Linked DNA regions of Homo sapiens. The protein of the gene in region 4 interacts with the protein of the main gene of each other region in a biochemical or structural test. Each region holds a gene or a part of one and is shown on either strand. Other genes may lie near its edges.

What was found.
Region 1: the proteins of MTERF1 (region 4) and SYTL2 form a complex in vitro, tested with the Homo sapiens proteins (one large-scale study listed by BioGRID).
Region 2: the proteins of MTERF1 (region 4) and DNAJC21 form a complex in vitro, tested with the Homo sapiens proteins (one large-scale study listed by BioGRID).
Region 3: the proteins of MTERF1 (region 4) and EXOC6B form a complex in vitro, tested with the Homo sapiens proteins (one large-scale study listed by BioGRID).

Annotation. Positions count from the first base shown.
Region 1 is NC_000011.10:85,800,341-85,805,473, forward strand, and holds part of SYTL2 (synaptotagmin-like protein 2), read right to left. Parts: intron 1-5,133.
Region 2 is NC_000005.10:34,945,560-34,950,692, reverse strand, and holds part of DNAJC21 (dnaJ homolog subfamily C member 21), read right to left. Parts: intron 4,972-5,133; coding exon of another isoform or gene 4,933-4,971; coding exon 4,890-4,932; intron 1,151-4,889; coding exon of another isoform or gene 1,016-1,150; intron 524-1,015; coding exon 351-523; intron 250-350; coding exon of another isoform or gene 246-249; exon of another isoform or gene 1-245. UniProt on the Homo sapiens protein: May act as a co-chaperone for HSP70. May play a role in ribosomal RNA (rRNA) biogenesis, possibly in the maturation of the 60S subunit. Binds the precursor 45S rRNA.
Region 3 is NC_000002.12:72,174,657-72,179,839, forward strand, and holds the end of EXOC6B (exocyst complex component 6B), read right to left. Parts: intron 4,806-5,183; coding exon 4,679-4,805; 3' UTR 1,328-4,678; downstream 1-1,327. UniProt on the Homo sapiens protein: Component of the exocyst complex involved in the docking of exocytic vesicles with fusion sites on the plasma membrane.
Region 4 is NC_000007.14:91,876,828-91,882,428, forward strand, and holds the start of MTERF1 (transcription termination factor 1, mitochondrial isoform 1 precursor), read right to left. Parts: upstream 3,876-5,601; 5' UTR 3,830-3,875; exon of another isoform or gene 3,813-3,829; intron 3,287-3,812; 5' UTR 3,257-3,286; coding exon 3,228-3,256; intron 152-3,227; exon of another isoform or gene 51-151; intron 1-50. UniProt on the Homo sapiens protein: Transcription termination factor. Binds to a 28 bp region within the tRNA(Leu(uur)) gene at a position immediately adjacent to and downstream of the 16S rRNA gene; this region comprises a tridecamer sequence critical for directing accurate termination.

The DNA.
Region 1 (5,133 bases), on a different chromosome or scaffold from region 4:
TCATGGCTCACTGCACCCTTGATATCCCAGGCTCAAGTGATCCTCCCACTTCAGCCTCCTGAGTAGCTGGGACTACAGGTGTGCACCAACATGCCCTGCTAATTTTTTTCTATTTTTCTGTAGAGATGGGGTCTTGCTATGTTGCTCAGGCTGGTCTCAAACTCCTGGGTTCAAGCAATCCTCCCACCTCAGCCTCCCAAACTGCTGAGATTACAGGAATGAGCCACTATGCCTGGCCCCCAGGAATTTAAAAGGTACAACTTACTCCCTATGCACTGAATGTCAGCCCAAGACTTGCTTTTAGTTCCTGGCTGCTGAGAGAGTGGACTTGGAAAAAGTATGCCAGAGAAGGAAAAAAACAAACACATCCACTCCCTCCTCACTTCCTCACACACCAAGCAAATACCTGTGCTCAGTTCCACAACAGGGTCACATCTGTCCCCTGCAGAATCTGACCGGTAGAGCCACGTCTCCTCCACACCCTTGGCTCCTGGCCACACATTATTAATAGTTCAAGTGCAGATGCAGGTGACTGTCTTCACATTGAGGCACCTCTAGTAACCAAGGCTAATCTCCCCAGTGGCTTTCCCCAAGGAACCCAGGTAATGTCGGGTTTTCCCTCCAGCATAGATAAAGCAGGCAACTATCCGGAAAACATAAACACAGGGCTAGAAACACAGAAACACACATCTGTGTGTACCTGGGTCTGATCCTGACTGCTTAGGGAGAAGGGCCACCTAGCTTCTTGCCATTTCCCATAGATGATAGTTTTGTAGTCTGAGCCTCTCTGCTCCTCCCTCTAAGAAACTCAACAGCTGCTAACCACAATAGTGCATGCTAAGCACAAGAAATTCTACAAAGCACTAACCAAATTCAGCATGCATTAGGTATCTACTATCCCTAGAACCTTAAACTCAATTTTGGAAATACAAAAAGGGGCCTTAAACTTTTTTTTTCTGGATTCAAGCTTCAATCATTTTGCCAGAAACACACCTGGTCCTTTGTTGAAAAGTGGTAAACATGCTTAACTCAAGGTAAGACATATTTATATTTTTGGAACAATTTGGCTCCAATGTGATCCAGTCCATAAATTAGCATATGGAGTCACCATTTTCCAACACATTATGTACTCTCCTATAGAAGTCTTGAATAGCAGCACCATCTCTACAAGTACCATTACCTTTTACCAAAAAAGCTTTAATATATGTTATCTCCTCTGTACACACAAGTGCAAACAAGTATGCCAATCAACCCCAAACCCATCTTTCATACTGTGAGCAGTGTTATTATCCTAAAGAGAAATTTCATTATCTCACTTACAATATTGAGAAACTTCAAAGATAAAGGGCAGCCTCCAAGATAAAGGGTCAGATTGTAGCCTCATTTCACCTTTGGTCTTTGGTGAAACTCCACTACATTAGCAGCGCCACCAACCATAATTTACCTGTCCTGTGTGCCAACTCAGTAGTCTCTTCCCCGTTCTTTTTTTTTTTTTTTTCAGATGGAGTCTTACACTGTCGCTGGAGTGCAATGGCGCGATCTCGGCTCACTGCAAACTCCACCTCCCAGGTTCAAGCGATACTCCTGCCTCAGCCTCCAGAGTAGCTGGGATTACAGGCACCCACCACCATGCCCGGCTAAGTTTTTGTATTTTTAGTAGAGATGGGGTTTTACTATGTTAGCCAGGCTGGTCTTGAACTCATGACCTTGTGATCCACACGCCTCAGGCTCCCAAAGTGCTGGGAATACAGGCATGGGCCACCGTGCCTGGCCTCCCCATTCTCCTGGTATCCCTTCTCTCCCTGCCTCCATGGCTTTGAACTTGAAACATCCTTCAACGTTTCCTCCCCACCACACTCTCTTTTCTTCTTTTTCTTTTCTTTTTTTTTTTTTTTTTGTGAGCCGGAGCCTTGCTCTGTCACCCAGGCTGGAGTGCAGTGGCATGATCTCAGCTCACTGCAACCTCTGCCTCCCAGGTTCAAGCAATTCTCCTGCCTCAGCCTCCCAAGTAGCTGGAATTACAGGTGCCCACCACCAGGCCCAGCCTCCCAAAGTGCTAGGATTACAGGCATGAGCCAATGCACCCAGCCCTCAGTCTCTTCTTAACCTAGCAAACTCCTACTCAGCCATAGGTCTAGCTTATCTGTCACCTTCCTACTTTCCCTGGCAGTTGCTCTCTCAGCAATCTCACAATAAGCTGTATGCATTTCTAACTAGAACACTTACCACACTGTACTGTAAGTACTACTTCACCATTGTCACCTTCAATAGCCAAGAGGAAGGGAAGGAAAGAGAAGGAAAGAGAGGAAAGAAAGAGAAGGGAAGAGAGAAAGGAAAGGAAGAAAAGGAAAATGAATAGAACTGACATTTATTGAATAGTGACTCTATGCAAGACACAAAGTCAGAGGCTTTAATATATTTATTACCCCATCTTGTGAGAAAATGAATGCAATTTTTGCAGAAAAGGAAGTTGAGAGTCCTATCCCAAAGAAACTCAAAAGCTGCTAACCACAGTTAAATTAGTTGCTTTATAACACAACTAGTAAGTGCATTCATGTTTAAATTCAAGCTTATCTTATTCCAAAGCCAAGTTTATTTCCACTACAAAGTGGCCTCTATGGGAAACATGGACACTAGCCAGAAACATCTTCTTAACCATGACCCCTCTCCCATCACCTTGTTGGCCACTATGCTTCATAACTCTGGCTTCTGACCTTCCACCTATGATTGCACCTCAAAATCATCTGCTATAACCATCAGATGGCAAGGTGTTGCTAGGAATCTGGCAAGAACACAGTGAATACATTTGCAGAAAGGTAGTATGATACTATTTCAAAAAGGTTCAAGAATGCATATTATAAAACTGTAAAAATGTGTCATATCTAAGTGGTCCTGCTAGGACAACTCATATAAAAATTCTTTATCTTTATAAAATCCTCATATCATGCACAACATGAAAATCAACTTCATTTCTACTCAAGTTCTTCAGTATATTCCCTCTCACTTATCAAGTTGTGATGCCCCAAAATAAACTGTAATTAAGGTCTTCTTGCCAGTTCTCCATAGTATTTCAGTTGCTCTAGTCCTGGGTGGTGCTGCTTCATAACTGCAGGAATAAGTGGCTGACTCCTTAGGCCATGGAGCGCTGGGAGAACCCAGTTGTTTTTCCTGGAAGATTATGTTAAGCCCATCATTACATCTCTATGGTAACAGAAATATCCTAGGTTTTCTGGAACAGTCCTAGTTTTGAATATTTATAATCTGTTTCAAGACTAGTGACAAACATATGTCTTAACACAGGATTCAGTAAGCATGAATATAACATCTTTCCTTTAGAGAACTCCCCCCAAAGAGGCAATACTGGGTTGTGAAAAGAGTACAGGTTTTCCAGTCAAAGTAACCTGGGATCAATTGTTTGTTTGGCCATTTACCACCTCTGTGACCTTGGGCAAAGGACTTGTCTGTGCTTCCATTTCCTCATCAGTAAAGTGGATAATTATCACCTACTTTAGAGAGTAGTCCTGCCAATTAGAGGAACAAGGACATAGCAAAGGGACTGACACAGAGTATGCACTAGATAGATAACAGACATTCTGTTTATTATGTTGTTGTTATTTGTAGCATCCCTAAAAGGAATGGAAAAGAAAGATACTATTTTTGCTTTTCTAAGTAAAGGACTATAAATTATGTGATTTACCTGTATTCAACTTCCTAAACACAACACTTCAGTTACTACATTCCAGGTAGTGTTGATTCTTAAATAGTATACTAAGTTGCTGACTCATCACTTTGTAGTCTGGTGTCACCCCCTAATATTTCCTGAAATACTTAAACTTTATTAATTATTACTATCTCTGTGTAACAAAATTTTCTAAATTTTTGCAACAAGCCCATTTTCAAGGGTTATCCTGTGTAGTCAAAACACTATCGCAAGCTATGTACCCTCATTCTGCATCTAGAACTCAGTTTGCAGCTTCGTACGTAATTTCATGAACAGTAGAGCAGAATACAAGTAGGGTACAGATAGCGTACAATTATATCAGATTATCTTCCAAAGATCCAAGGCATGGGCTCTGGAGTCAAACTGCCTGGATTCAAATCTCTGTTGTTGTTCTTATTGGCTGTGTCACCTTGGGCAACTTATTTAAATTATATGGGCCTCAATTTCCTCATCATAAAATAGAAACAATCATAGTACCAAAAATAGTATCAATAATAGATTATTGTGAGGATTAAATAAATTGATGTAGGTATAGTGCTTGGAATACTGCCTGGTACATAGTAAGTGCTCAATAAATGTCAGACATCTTCATCATTCACTTGCTTCAGACTGTTTTTCAGTCTGAAGCAATTAGACGTGATATAGTATGTTACATTAGCAACCAAAAATACCAGATCAGGTAAAATACCTTTAAAATAACTGAATAAAATGAATCCTACATAACCAGTTACTACCTCTAGGTGCCATAACAGCAGTAGATCTATCATATTTGCATTTGAATGCCGGTGGCTCCAACTATTCATAACTTACCTTGAAGACGTCATGTAGAAATTGTAGCTAAATCAACAGTAGCACCAGAAAGGAATGAAGTCGTGAGTCCTTGGCTGGTAAGTCTTTGGTCAACCACCCAGCACAGCATCTCAATCTGCTTTTGCTGGTTTTCATTAAATACAGGACCTCATTTAATCCTCTAAACAATCTTGTCAAACAAATCTGATCATTCTCATTTTATAGACACATGGAGGGAATTACATGCTATGACAATAGTTGCAGTCTTGGGGATAGCAAAGGTCTCAGGATGAAAACCCTGAACGTGTCCCAAAATGGCATAACTGAAACAACCCTAGACTATAACTAAAAGAAAAAGGGCCGAGTGTGGTGGCTCATGCCTGTAACCCCAGTGTTTTGGGTGGCCAAGGTGGGAAGACTGCTTGAGCCCAGGAGTTCAAGACCAGCCTGAGCAACACAGTGAGATCCCATCTCTACAAAAAAAAAAAAACAAAAAAACTGAAAACCTAAACCTTTTACTTATAAAACTCAAATGCTAGTCTAAAACCAACAGTGGTAAAGAATCTGCCCTAAGAAATCTAACACAATACAGCTCAGCCTTCCTCCCAACACAGATCACTGGC
Region 2 (5,133 bases), on a different chromosome or scaffold from region 4:
ACTCCAGGGACGCAGCAGGAGTCTTGTTCTCATGTGAGTGTCAAGTGTTAATGATCCACGACAAAATCAGCGCCACAGCAGGATAAGGTAAACAAGAACTGGATCAAAGTGACATCTTTCTGATTTTGGCCATGCTGCTGAGATGTGTGTGGGCACATTCCTCTAGCATCCTCTTCTCAACGCTCTTCATCTGTATACATATGTGTGTGTGTATCTATACATAAATATGTACAGATACATCTAAATTACCTGGTCAGTCATGGGAAAGAAGATTTTATTTGATATATGAAAAGCTACATCCTTACTATCAATATTCAGTAATTTACAAATAATATGCAACTTTGACTTACCTTTTAGCTTCACTTTTTGGATCATCACATGGTTTAATGATCTCTGTGACACTGACATTTTCCTGGGGACTATCTTCCAATTCTTTGGCACTGTCTTGATTTAAGTTAGTATCTTCTGGATCAACCTTTACTCCTTCTCCAGGTCCATTTACATTGAAATTGTCATCATAATTCTAGGTAATAAAACATATGTGCCGTTACAAAATAAATATAATACTACTACTAGCTTTTTATGTTATGTTGCCAAATAGTTATATACCTTCGGGAAATAAAAAGGAGAAGCAGGTAAGTTAAGAACATGGATGCTCATTACAGTGATAGTAAATTAAGGGAAATCTGAAAAGAATCCAAATGTTCAAAAAGTGAATGGCTGAATATATGAAGAAAAATTCTGAAGTGCTTAAGTATCATGTTTCCAAAGATACTCAATTATGTGAAAAAATACTTACAACATATTAGCAAAAGTAGAAGAAAGAAAATTATACATAGTGTAATCACAATTTAATTCTTTATTAAGTAATCTCTACAGGTAAAATTAAGGATGATACTTTTCCATATTCCAAATGATAAGCAATGAGCAACTATTCTTCTACAGTCACAAACAATGGCAACAACAAACAGGCATTATAAAAGAAAGACGCCTGGCAAACATATCCTAAGCGTACCTGTCTGTTTTCAAGCAACATTTTGGCACATTTGTGCTCGCTCTCTCCATCTCTTCTCTCTCCCAACACACACTTTTTTCCCCAAGCCATCTGAAAGTGAGCTGCAGGCAGATATGAATCTTTGCCAGGTACATCCTAAGAATCAAAACATTCTCTGGCACAATACTCACACTCAAGAATCTAATGCTAATATTATCTGTTACACAACCCACATTCAAATTTACCAATTACTCCTTTTCCTGTATAGGGATATACAGGATAGGGGGTGTAATCAAGGATCACATGTTGCATTTAGTTGTCAGGTACCTTTAATCTCCTTTATTCTAGAGCAGCTCCCCCACTTTTTTTTTGTCTTTCATGATGTTGACAATTTGATGTTTTGTAGAGTGTCCCATAATCTGGCTTTGTTTGGTTGTTTCCAAATGATCAGATTCAGGTTAAACATTTCTAGCATAATACTATAATCCCGGGAAGCAAAATGAGTTTGTCATTTTTCAGTGATATTATTAAGTTTGATCATTTGGTTAGGGTGGTATTGCCAGATTTTTCAACTGTAAAGTATGTTTTCCCTTTTTAAATTAATAAGTAATCTGCAGAGTGTGACTCTGAGACTGTGTGAATATCCTGTCCCCATGACCATTTACCGAATATACTTGGCATCTATTAATGATTCTTGCCTGAAACATTTATATACTGGTGGATGTAGAAGAGTGATTTTCTCCCTCTATTACTTGTGTCATTTGCACTTGTACTAATTAATATTTTTCTGTAATAATAAAGCTTTCCTATCTCCTTTCTCCAACTTTTTTTTTTTTGAGACAGTCTTGCTCTGTTGCCCAGGCTGGAGTGCAGTGGCGTGATCTCAGCTCACTGCAACCTCAGCCTCCCAGGTTCCAACGATTCTCCTGCCTCAGGCTCCTGAGTAGCTGGAATTACAGGCGCATGGCACCACGCCCGGCTAATTTTTGTATTTTTAGTAGAGATGGGGTTTCACTATGTTGGCCAAGCTGATCTTGAACTCCTGACTTTGTGATCCACCCGCCTTGGCCTCCCAAAGTTCTGGGATTACAGGCGTGAGCCACCGCACCTGGCCAGCTCTCACTATTTTAAAAGTCAATATAGATACATAAATTTCTTTTTAACAAATGCAATGTATGAAGATCTATTACCCTTATTCCTTTTGATGACTCAAGTTTTCCCTAACTGGCAGGCCCCGCAAGCTGGATCTTGAGTACTTCTAACGTATCCCCATCAGTTTTTGAGCACTTCCTTAGTTTCTAGTATAAGATGCTCTAGGCTCACGTTCCACTTTCCTAGTCTCAGCCCTGAAATCAGGTATTTCTCCAAAGAGCAAGCCTGTTTCCTTTTCATGGAAAAGTGAACTTAAAAACCAAAACGTGTGCATTAGGTGTACTCACTGCTAGGGGTGTCACTGCTTCTAGGTCCTCACAATGCACACTGCTCACACACTTACTTTCTTTAAATCATGGGCTCATACCAACATCTCCACTTCAATCCAACTCTACAGTATTCTTCTTCTCTTTTCCTCAATTTATATTTGTATTTCCCTCTTCCCACAAAAAGAATATGGTTCCCAGCTACAATTTATTCATTTAATTCCTTTTTTTGGGGGAGGGGTCAAGGATCAAATAATTTAATTTTATTAAGATGTCAATACAACCTACATTGTGAACAAATTCAATATAATTTCTATAAAAATCCCAATAGCACAGGATTTTTTTTTACAGAACTATTGCTTAAAATTTTTAAATTTGATTATGAACTATAACTAGCCAAGCACTCACGAAAAAGAGGAGGCATTATACTTCCTGATTTCAAAACATATTAAAAGCTACAATAACAAAAACAATGTGGTACTGACACAAAGACAGAAAAACAGATAACAGAACAGAATACGGCACAGAAATGAACTCTTCTATATATGATTAAATGATCTTCCACAAAGTTGCCATGAGCACATGATAGAGAAAAGATAATCTCTTCAAAAAAAAAAAAAAAAACATGGTGAAAACTGCATGTCTACACTGATAAAGCTGGATCCTCTCCTTGAATCATATACAAAAAATATTTTAAATAAAATACTTACACATAAAAATAACTAACAAACCTCTTAGAAAAAATATAGGGGAAAGAAATGACATGGGTCTTGGAACCATTTTCTTAGACACAACATTAAATATGTGATTAACAAAGAACAGAAAAATTTAACTACGTGATACTTCAACATTTCTGCACATCAATGCCTCCTCTATGAAATTGGTGAAAATATACTCATTTACTTTCAAAAATACCACACCAATACCACCAAAAAACATACTAAATTCAGGACTTACTTTTTTGGCAGTTAATTTTATCTTTCAACTATATCCCTTGGAAGGTATTCAGTCAGAGTACTATGTTTGAGTTACTTGAATTAAATTTTCTTTCCTGTCAGTCAGGGTCATTTCTTTCTATTTACATTCAGTTTTAATCTGGGAGGGTTTTCTTGTACAATTCCTTGTTGGTTATGGAATTTTTCTGGCCATACAGAAAACTTCCCCAATCTCAAGTTTCAAGATACTCATTATTTGCTGCCGTCTGCTCTTAAATCTATCAGTACATTTCTCCACACTGCCCTTCCCTTCAAAAAGAGCTTAGAAAATATCAGGAAAAGTGTTACATCAAGCTAGGTCTGAACTTGCTACAATCAGGAATCATAAACGAGAGATGCTATAAAGGAATATAGCTTTTGAGAGAAACGATGGGGTGTTCATTTGAAGCATTTTCATCAGTAAGAAAATACTAACGTATGTGTTTATGGTTGCAATCAATAGAATCTATGCTCCATTAATCAAGGTAATACAGGCTCAGGTTAAACATAAATCTCTCTCCATTTATTTTGTCCTTACTGTAATGGTACTGACATACACAAAGGAAAGAGAAAGTGTTCCAAACTAATAATTATAAGGTGTTTGGATGGATGATGGTAGATGTCAATTTATAAAAAGAACACATATTTGCTATGCGGTTTTATAACTGAAGCAAAAAGTTCCAAATTACAATTTTAAGTGATTAACTCATGTGTCATATATCATTTTTTGAATAGGAAACTGATTTTAAAAAAGACTATTAAATATATTATTATAACCATTTGGATAAATAAACCAAATCTGAAGTTTTATTAAAAAGCATTAATGTGTTTTCTTAAAAATATTTAATACTTAATGTAAGTTAATATAACTAGATTATACTAAAATGCCATAAATCCAAATGTCCTTGGTAAAATGGACAAATTCACTTTATTTTTATAGGTATAACAACATAATACCATTTTATTTAAAAATAGTCCTTAAGACAGAGAATGAATTTGGACTTCAGCTGTGAAATATTTAAATTACTTAAACTTCAGAAAAATAGAAACATTTTTTCAAGACTCACAATCATTACAAGTTTCTAACCAAATGTTCCTTTTGCAATGTTTATGTTGTTGGCAGAATAAACTGAGATAAAAAAATGACCAATCCCAGATTTTCCTATTTCAAGATTTTAATTGTTGTCTTGACTTAAAAGCCTTTTGTGAGATGTATTCAGATTTTTAAAATACTGAAAATTCAGCTAATTCATACCAGGGGAATTCTACATGCATACTTGTTAAACACACTGGCAGTCATAATTAAGTTTGTTATTACATACATACAAGGGGGGGGAAGCACTAAAAAAGGAAAATATTTCTAATTCCTTTTTAATCAATCTTACAATCAACATAAAATTATGGAGTATAAGTTTCTCTCCTTAACACAGACTACACTGAATAAATAAGAGCACTGCAACTTTATCGTTGGCATTTAATGTTAACAAAACCTTTCTAACATACCTGTGCTGGTTTCTGTTTCTTTTTCTTCTGTTTTTTAGAAAGCCTAAGAGCAAATATAAATCGAAATGTCAAATACTTGACTCTGTGAAGAGTAAGTGGAAAAAAAAAAAAGTTGAAACACTAGTGATAAAGTAGTAAAACAGAAGTAAAAGATTAAAAATATTTAATATCTTAAAGCATTAAAAGGAAAATAAAGTATTCACATTGTCATTTTAGAGAATAACACAAGGCTGTAGTTCAATGG
Region 3 (5,183 bases), on a different chromosome or scaffold from region 4:
CACACACACACACATCTGCAAGGGTTCTTGGACACCTGGTTAAGAACTCCCAATAGAAGAAGGTGTAAGTTTTGGCACCAAAGTAAGAGTAGAGAAGATTCCATGTAGTGTTAAGGATAGGCTGTCCTCAGAGCCAGGCGGCTGGCTGATTTGAAAGGCGTGTCCCTCTGTTTCATATACAGGTGCTTGGCGGGGATGGCTATCACCAATCCTGAAGTGGACTTGGGGAGAGGATGTCAGGAGGCAGAGAAGCCCTGGACACTTTTGTCCAGCGCTCAGCCATGAGGCATGTTGTGGAATTGGAAGGTAGGGAGGAAAAGGCCTTAAATATTGCATGTGCTATTGCTCAGTTTGATACTGGCTAAGCATTTTGACCTTCCACAGCTCATTTACACTTCACAACAAACCTGTAAATTGGAGACTACCAGTCTGCTTTCATGGATGAGGATGATGATATTTAGGGAGCTCGTTTAGTAATTGTCAAGGTCAGGGGCTAGTAAGTGGCATTGCAGAGATCAAAGCCCCGGTCTCGGGCATGAAAGCCCAGTTGCAGTAGTCAGATTTCTTACTGGAGAAAATTGTTTCTAGTCTATTCCCATTGCTTGTGTGCTAGCCTGGAGGGCAAGCAGGCTGGGTGTTGCTACACTGGCATTGCTGGTCTTACTTACCATGGTTCCAGATGTGCCTAGGAGGTTCTTCATTACATCCCAGAACATACCAGGCTCATGCCAACATTGTACTCTAATATGGTCTGCACCAAAAATACTCATTCCTATGACTTAACAAAATTTGACTTGCATTCCTTCAAGGCCCAGCTAATTAACATTCTGCTTCTTCTGAGCTGTCTTTCCTAACCAGACCCTTTCCTTCACTAGGCCAGGATGACTGTACCCCTCCTGCACTGAGTCTAAAATAGGCTCATCTCTCCCTTTTCTCCAGCCTGGCTTTGTTCTGGATAATCCTACAACACTCCATCTTGACTGGGAGCCTTTCCTTGGCAGGGCTAGTGTTCAACATTGCGTTCTAAGTTGCCTAGCCCAGTGTTCCACATAACTCAAGCATTTCAAAAAGTTCTTCTTGATGATGATGCCAGTGTTAGCTGCATAAGCAGGAAAAAACGTAACCCAGGGGTTAGGGATGTTTCCAAGGCCACAGTACGGCTCCTTGCCTTGTGTGGAAGGTAGGCTTTCTCTTCCCCACTAGGCTCTTGCCTGCTCTAGTCCTCAGTCCAGCTGAGTGGGGATGCAATGTCAGCCATCCAGTTCACCAACCACAGCTGCACTGTGCAAAAAGGATGGAAGAACAAAATACCCATGAGACAACACCGTGGCTTTTGAAACAGGTATGTAGGCTTTCTTGTTTAATAGCAGTTAAAAGAGGAAAATGTACAAGAGGAATAAACATGCTCTTTTCACAGAGGAGCTTTCCCCTAACCATGCGGCCCATCTGTATCAGTAGCTTTACAAGTAAGTTTTAGAGAAAAAAGTTCCCTTTAGAGTTAAAAATGGACTTTCCTAATTTTCTCTATATATGTGCAACTATCTGTGTAAAATAAAAATGCCATTTCCAACACCTTTGTGAAAAGTAATTGTGAATGCAGGCAAAAAAAAAAAAAACAAAAAGGAAGAAGAAGAAGAAGAAGAAGAGGCAATTGCAGTCAAGAGAGGAGTCCTGGGAGAAGGGAGGCTAAGGTAGGGGAATTTCTGCAGCAGTTCCTAGAGAGTGTGCTCAGAGGCCTGATGAGGAAGGTCATGGCCAAAGCCAGTCTTGGGAGATAAAAGGCCGTGGGTCTGGGACTTGCTGAGTAAGCACTTGTCAAGTGTACAGTAAGGCTAGACTGACTTGGAGGACTGGTATGCAATGAGAACAGTGGGCAATGCACCCTGGAAGCTCTACATTCCCTTTGCCAACAGGATCTCACTTCCTGGTTCCCATTTTCAGGTCCTGTTCTTCCCTACCTGCAACAGCTTCATTTATAGCCTGCTCAAAGAGATTTTCCCTATGAATGTTAAAATGATGCAAGCAGCCTATATTACTACTGAAACCTAATAGAGTCCCAAACTGAACTGTCCCTTCAGGAATATAGACCTGGTTTCCTCAAGAACTTGGCCAAGGGTTCATCCTGACCAGAAGCCATACAGGCTTCTAGCCATCTGTGTGCTTGCCCTCTTATTGAGGCCCTCCACGGTACTTCTACATCTCTAGGTATTTGAGGCCATATCTGAGGAGTCTGATGGGTCTGGGCACACATGCTTTGCACAAGTCCTCTCAAGGGTTGGCCCAGCTACAGGTTATAGACAAAACTAAAAACATCCCACTTTTCTAGTTCAAAAACTTGACATTGCTGGTCCCTGTTTTTACCTTCCCTGGCCCACCAAGAGTATGTCTCTACATACAACTCAGTAGCTGCATGTTGTTTTTTGTTAGATAAGGTGAAGGCAGACTAAGAATGGAGAGAAGATATATCAAAGGGTCCATCTTTATGTCTTGAGCTTGAATAAGCTTTTCCTTTCATGGGACTTCTGTGCAGAATAACCCCTATTCCTCCACCTTGTTCACTTTTTCCTGTATAGCACAGTTCTTCCAAGGCAGAGGTTTGAGACCAGACCAGCAATGATGATCCTCTAAAAAGACAAACACTGTGCCATGCTTACACATCTCTCCATTTCCACTTCAAAGTCTCTCAGCACTTAAAGCTGAAGAGATCTTGCTGCAAACTGGGTACTAGCAAAGAGAAGTGTTTTGAACTCTTCTCAAGCAATAGAACTTCAGATTAATATAATCGTTTCTCACTTGTTTCAACAAAGATGAGAGCTTGGCGATGCCATTTTGGCTCCTGCCTTCTCTTGGCTTATCAAGTTCTGGGTGGCAGTGCTCATCCCTTACCCTCATTCTGAAACCCTGGCCAACCATCCAGCCCTCAGGATGAGCCTCAGCAGCATCTATGAGCTCACATGTAGCCTGGTCTCTCCAGCTTTGAGGAAATTTGTATGTCTGTGTGCACATCCTCTTCCCCATGACTATCAAGATATGATAGGATATGGTGAGGTAGGGGGGTTGGGGAGGGGCAAGGAAGTACTTCCCTCCCCAGAAGCAACTCAGTAGCTGACAAAGGTAGTGAAGAATTCTGTTTGATGAGTCTCTCCTCCCATCAATCCAAGCTGGAAATGCCTGTGTGGCTTATTTGTCATTGTTTGGTGATGCACAATTATACTCTTGCCACTAGCCATCTTTCTGCTACTAGCCAGTAGCATCTTTCTGAAGTGTCTTAAAGTACAGTTTCCCCCGACTGACCTCATAGCAAAGCCCTTGCGTTAAGTCTCAGGAGTCCATCTGGGTCAATGAGTGCAGCCTCCACGCTAAGCTGCTCCAGGCTTTAGAGTTTGGAGGACAGGATTATAGGCAATCTTTCTTAGACAAGGCCAAAGATGGCTTTGGGGATCTCAAAAGAGGGTGGGAACCTTGGGCTTGAGCAACAAAATAATATCTAGGATATTATTTAGTGAAGGACAGTTGGGCCAGAGGCAACAAGCCACAAGCCATGGTTGGCTCTGTCGACTTTATGGTAACAATGTCTCCATCCCTAGAGGCATCCAGTCCAGGCATGGCTGCCCCCACAGTGCAGAGCTGGTGACATTTCCTTAAAGATGATAACCAAAAAGCTGGTTTTAAAACATAAAGGAACAATCCCAACTAATCCTCAGGTTACACCTAAGGGTAAGGTAAAGGCCATTTTTAGGCTTCCGAAATCTGAACTATTTCAATGGCATTACTGGAGGAGGCTAAGTCTGAAACGCCCTGTGAAGGCCTATGGAAGTAACTGTTGATTTATGTCCTGAACCAAGTGCTCTGACTGTAAGTGAAGGAAATGAGATGAACAGGGAAGGGATTGGGTCTCTGATTCCATGAAAACTGGCTTTCAAGATCCAGAAAAACTCTTCGAGTTGAGACTCAACACTCCTAGAGCTGGGGCAATATGCAGTTAAACATGGGATCCAATTATTACTGCTGTCTACTTAGCTGTATCCTGCCCTAGAAAAAATTGCAATAAAAGCCTGGGGTTAGATCAGGCTAAAGAAACCGCCATTCTTGGGGGATTGGAATGAAGCTGTCATCTTGCCATATGCCATGCTTGTTCACAAGCCAGTGAAAGTCAGCAGACTGAGGAGATGACCCTCCAGAGCTGCCCTTAGTGTACTAAATAGTAATGTTTGCCATGCCCTTTCCTTGTATTGAGAAGAATCAGCCTCATCTATGTGGTGAATGGGCATCCAAGAGTGAACAGGACATATTTTAGTATCCTTTTGCTTACTCACTCTACCTCCCAGCGCCAGATACCCACTTTTTATGGTTCCTAAGCCCCAGACCTAAGCTTTAGAGCCATGGATGAAAGGTGGTTCATCACTGTGGAATTGATGATACCACCATCTCTAAGATAACACAGATAGTGTAGTAATAACTTCCCCTGAGTCCCAGCCTAGCAACATCTCATGTACTTGCTTATTCTTGTGCCTCTTTTACTATAGGGAAATGTTATGTGAATACTGCACAGGGGTTAATAAAAAAATACATATGCTCTCTTTGAAGAAGAATGCACAAATGCAGGGTCAGCTGGGGCTGGACCCCAGACTGACACAGAGGCTGCAGCAGGTCGCCTCTGTGGGTCCGGGGTCACCCTTCATGAGTGGTGGCTGCTGATGAGTCCTCGGAGCTGCTTGGCCACGGTGTCAATGAGTTTCTGCTTGTCTCGCTCATTTTTCCGAAACTGTGCAAACATGTTGTTCTTGCGGCTAGTATCCTTCATCCTAAACAGAGAAGGAAAGAAAGAGGGCAACATGTTTGAGGAAACAATGGTGGAAGGAGAACCTGCAGGAAGCAGGATGGCAATGCATCTTAACCACTACCCAGAGTAATGAGAGAGTCCAGAATATCTCCACTGTCAGGCCCACACTCACCTACTCATCAGGAAGCTGGCATTCTGGCACCTATAGCCCTCCCAACTTCAGTCACCTTTGGAAACTGGTCAAGACCCAGTTTTGGAGGGGTCAATCTCCCTACCCCTTATACCTGCTCCACCTAATTCATTCTCTTCTCTCAGCAGGTATGTACCTGCTGTAGGTGTCTGGGACAGGGAACAGCTCTGCTGGTCAATAAGCCCTTATAGAATGTCTAGGATCCACTCA
Region 4 (5,601 bases):
AGAAACTTTAAAATATAATTATCCTTCTAACTGAAGAATGACGGCTCTACCTTGCATAGTTCAACAGCCTGTTTTCTCTTCCAGATGCTCGACTGACCTCTACTGGAATAAAGGGGCAGAATGCGTCAGCTGGAAATCAGATCAGTACTTTCTAGAGAGGTCCAAGATGATACAATGGGATGGAGGAAGAAAATAGTTAAAACTACAATTTGTATTTGTCTTAGCCTTTGAAAAATTCTTTCTACATATGTTTTATAATATAAACAATATGATTGTACTGTAAGACATATATAATCAATAAACAAATGTACATATATTGTAGGCATATTTCTATTGACAATGTACACAATCAAAAAAGTGTGAAGACTACTAGACAGTGCACTTTCTTAGGACTATTAGCATCATGGTAAACAGGCTGAATAAGCCACAGAATGTTCAACAGAAATTCTATTAATAACAAACTAAAAATAGGTGAAAATGTAAGCCAAAATTCCTAACAAAAAGTAACAAATCTATAAACGTTTCTTCTAAATCTGTCACAAGTAAATTTCATGTCTTGTGTATAACTCATCCTCCATGGAAGTTTCTTCCACACAAACTTAACATGCCCCAAACTTGAGTATCTTTCCCAGTCCCCAAATTTGCCCTCTTCTGACTAAAGATATCATTATCACAATCACTATCTAAGAGTCATTTGTGATAAAAATCTAAAAGTGAGCTTTGCTTTCTTCCTCTTCCTCAACTCCAGTCATCAAATCACGTAGACTCAACTTCTTTGGCATCTCTCTGAAATCCAACCTCGCTACTCTTTGTAATTCTCATTCTGTTACAAGTCTTCATTCTCTTTTACCCAGCCTGTAACAGCCACCTGATGTGCTTCTCTGACATCCATCACTCGAAACTGCCACCATACTGACATTTGTAAAATGATGTGATTATGTCCCTCATTCTCTGATTAAAGACCTTCTGTAGCTCTCCCCGAAAAAACAAAATCTTCAAAGTGATCTTTTTCTAGCTACCTTTTCAGTTAGCTAACTACCTTACCATCTACTTCTAACTACCTTTCTAGCTATCTCTTCTATTGTACCACCTCAATACCTAGCACTATCGCCTCTCAAACCTCTGATCCCAAACATCCTTGCCCATTCCTGTCTCCCTACCTTTGCTTAAGCTGTTCTTTCTTTTAGAAAGGCCCATCCTCCTGATGCCTATCCATAGGACAAGGTCCCATTCAAATATAATCTTCCCTCAAATCCTTAACTTACTTTAAAATACTAACCACTGAAATCAACCATTTGTTTTATGATAATTTATTACTAAGGAATCTAAAACTAAGCTTTCTATTTATAGAAAACAAGAGCTGAAATGGACTTACAACTGGCAACTGAAATTTGGTCTTGATTACAATACTAAAATGCAATAAATTTACTCTAAAAATGACATCTAAAAATGACATGTGTGGTCTCAGCTAAACCTAGAAATTTGGTCTTGATTACAATACTAAAATGCAGTAAATTTACTCTAAAAATGACATGTGTGGTCTCAGCTAAACTTAGAAACAGTAATTAATAATATTGACTGTTAATGAACATATGAGGAAACAGAGGAAATTCTCAAATATTGTTAATGGACCAGAATTTGGCACCAGCTGCCACAATTTTAAATGTTCATAGCCTTTAATTCAGCATTTCCACTTCTTGGAGATTATCCAAAGGGGGAAAAAAGGGCCAGGGGCAGCGGCTCACACCTGTAATGCCAGCATTTTGGAAAGCCAAGGTGGGAGGATTGCTTAAACCCAGGAGTTTGAGACCAGCCTGGACAACAAAGTGAGACCCTTATTCTACAAAAAATCAAAACATTAGCCAACTGTAACAGCACACACCTATAGTCCCAGCTGCTCAGAAGGCTGAGGTAGGAGGACTGCTTGAGCCCAGGAGATCCAGACTGCAGTGAGCCATAATCTAGCCACTGCACCCCAGCCTGGATGACAGAGTGAGCCCATCTCAAAAAGAAAAAAAGACAATATGTGTTTGTTATGAAAAAGGATGACTAGGCCAAGCACAGTGGCTTCACACCTATAATCTCACCACTTTGAGATGTTGGCCAGGAGTTTGAGATCAGCCTGGCCAACATGACGAAACCCCATCTCTACTAAAAATACTAAAATTAGCCAGGCATGGTGATATATGTCTCTAATCCCAGCTACTCAGGTGGCTAAGGCACAATAACTGCTTAAACCTGGGAGGCGGAGGTTGTAGTGAGCTGAGATTGCACCACTGCACTCCAGTCTGGGCAACAGAGCAAGAATCTGTCTCATAAAAAAAGAAAATAGAAGAAAAAGAAAGAAAGAAAAAGGATGACCATCATAACATTATTTGCTATAACAAAGAAGAAGAAACCCAAATGGCCACCAATAGAATAATTAATAAATTGTGGTACATCTATGCAATATACTATAAAGGTGCCAAAAATAAAGGCCGATCTACTGCAATCAAAAGATGTCAGATATTCTACATGACAAACTGCTTAACAGTATGGATAATGCCATGTATATTAAAGGCGGGGAGGGGGACGTTAATATATACAGAGGGGGAAAGTGGAATGACACTTATTTCTGAAAGATTATTAGAGGCTATGTACTACTTCTGAAATACTGGGACTTTATTTAATGAATATGTGTTACTTTGCAGTCAGATGAAAAAATTTAAACAAGTAAAACTGGCCTTTGGTGTGAAAAACAATGGAAAATACAAATTATCTTTATCTATTTTTCGGTTTCTAGTACCAAAAAAGTCACACTTCAAAATTCTCCATGATGCTTTACTCTTAGCAACGGATCTCCATTCAAAATACTCATAATATCTAGTAGGGTAAATGAACATCTAAATAGCCTAATACAAGAAAGTTAGCAACTTTCCTCACGTACAAATTTCAAAAATGGTACCTATTCAAAAATTGACTTCGATCTATTTCTCAAATTGACTTTTTAATTAACCAAAACCATTATCCAAAGGGCTAATGTTCAAACTTAACAAACACTGAAAATTTCTATGCTTGTAGTATGAGGGGTCTAAAAAAAGATTTACGTTCGCCTCTGCCCCACAACTGGCCTGTTAAAAAGGCTGTTAATGGAAATAACTAATCACTGGCCCTAAAATACCACATTCCAGCTGGTCTTCTTTTGATACAGCAAGCTAAGTTTGGAGATCTTTACATGCATTTCTCACCTTGTTTGTCCTAAGGAAAGGCTCTGCATCCCTCCAGAAAGGCTGGAGAACAGCTATCTCTGGAAATGACACACACACACAAAAAAAAGGCAAAATATTTCAGGCCTTCCTAATACAAAATAAGAGATCGATCCCAGCTAACGTTCTCGTTGCATTATGTTCTCGTGAGATGCATTACCTCTTGCAAACAACATTTCTCAGACATACAGAAAAGAAAACGGCAAGTACATGCCTACATATGATGGGAAAAGGTAGCGGAATCACGAATACGTTTTGTACCAAAGCTAAGTGCTTCATATATATTGTCTCGCTTTACTCCCCACAACAATTTAAAAGGTAGGCATAAGCCTTAAAATTACAAAATCTGAAACAGCGCCGAGCTCCCATACTAGCCTGCCTTCGCTAGCTGAAGCATTAGGGTTCGAACCCAGGTGGGTCTTTCTTAACTCAAAACCAAGGTAATTCCACACCGAAGGCTCTTTCCATCCCTCTTCCTCCTCCAAAGACAAATCTGCAAAGGGCTGCACTGTACAGCAGTCACCCACACCCACTTCTTAACAAAAAGAAAGGAAAGCACAGCCTCACCACCTTCCCAATCTCACCCTGAACTGCACCCATCCACTGTAGTTCGCTTTTACTTCCGCCTCTGGGGTCCGGAGCGGCTAGGAGGAGCGGAAGTGGAAAAGACTAACTTCCGGCCTCGGGTCGCGCGCAGAGGTGATGTCGTTGGTCCTGCGCCCCCTCGTGGCGGTACTTCAGCCCTTCGCAGCCCGACGCTAGGGGCCTGGCAGGGGGCAGCAAGAGACCGCGGTGAGCGCGGGGTATTGAACGCCAAAGAAGGGGTTTGGAGGGTGGGGTGGGGCCTGGGACTCCCAGTCGCCTGGGCAGATGTCCGTGGGGAACTGTAAGGCATCTTATAGGGATCCTACAGGGGGCATCCACTGCCGGCCGACGACACGTGGTGGAAAAGTAGCTATTATTTACATGCGTGTTGCAGTTTTTGATAATGCGATTGCTGCTGCTAATGTGACTAACGCGATGCCGATGAACATCTCGGCGTTTTTTGGTGCAGGATAAGCGGGTGTAGACTCTGTCTGTTTAGTCCCAGATTCTCCTCCTTTAATGAACTACCGTGGAAATCCTGGAGTGTCACTGCTGGTCTGAATTCAGCATCCGCCTTCAGGCTGGAAATCAATTCTAGTATACTTCGATTTCCTTACTTGCAGTTCGAATTCAAATATGATTCTTTTGACATTGTGAGGGTTTGCGCTATTTAAAGAATGGAGGCAACCGAAACCTCATCTCCACAGTGGATGCATTTTTGCTCCCTCCCGAGGCGTTGCCTTAAGCCACGCGGTCCTGTCAGCCTCACCTGCCTAGTGATGGTGACAATGGAAGAGATAAAGCTTCAATTCAAGGCACTTCTCCTGTGACCATCAAAAGAAAGATAATATCTACATTAATGAATTAATTGTGTCTGTCGAGTTATCCTCAGGAGACGATGGTGATTTGGTCCTTAAAAAAACACAGGATCAACAGGATTGACCCTGAATTCTACAAAGAGGAAAAATTTCAGGCATTACTAACTCCTCCATGTACAAGCCTAATGATGTAATTTTCTGGCCGGGCGCGATGGCTCATGCCTGTAATCCCAGCACTTTGGGAGGCCAAGGCGGGAGGATGGCTTGAGGCCAGGAGTTCGAGACCAGCCTGGCCAACATGGTGAAACCCCATCTCTACAAAAAGTACAAACATTAGCCAGGCGTGGTCACAGGTGCCTGTAGTCCCAGCTACTTGGGAGGCTAAGGTGGGAGAATCACCTGAGCCTGGGAGGTTGAGGCTGCAGTGAGCCGTGATTGTGCCACTACACTCTAGCCTGGGTGACACAGTGAACCTTGTCTCAAGAAAGAAAAAGAATTTTCTTTATCCCATTTCTTTCTCCTTTTTCTTTTTTTTTTTTTTTTTTCCTTTAGACGGAGTCTCACTCTGTTGCCAGGCTGGAGTGCAATGGCGCGATCTCGGCTCACTACAACCTCTGCCTCCCGGGTTCAAGCGATTCCCCTGCCTCAGCCTCCCGAGTAGCTGGGAGTACAGGCGCGTGCCACCATGCCCGGCAATTTTTTTGTTTTGTTTTTTGTTTTTTTGTTTTTTTGTATTTTAGTAGATACGGGGTTTCACCATGTTGGCCAGGATGGTCTCGATCTCCTGACCTCATGATCCACCCACCTCGGCCTCCCAAAGTGTTGGGATTACAGGCGTGAGCTACCGCACCCGGCGTGTTTATCCCATTTCTATGCCAATGAACCAATTACGTTTTACCATCACTCTTCCCCTTTGACTACTCCTAGTTGGGTTGTTGTTGTCACTTTGTTTT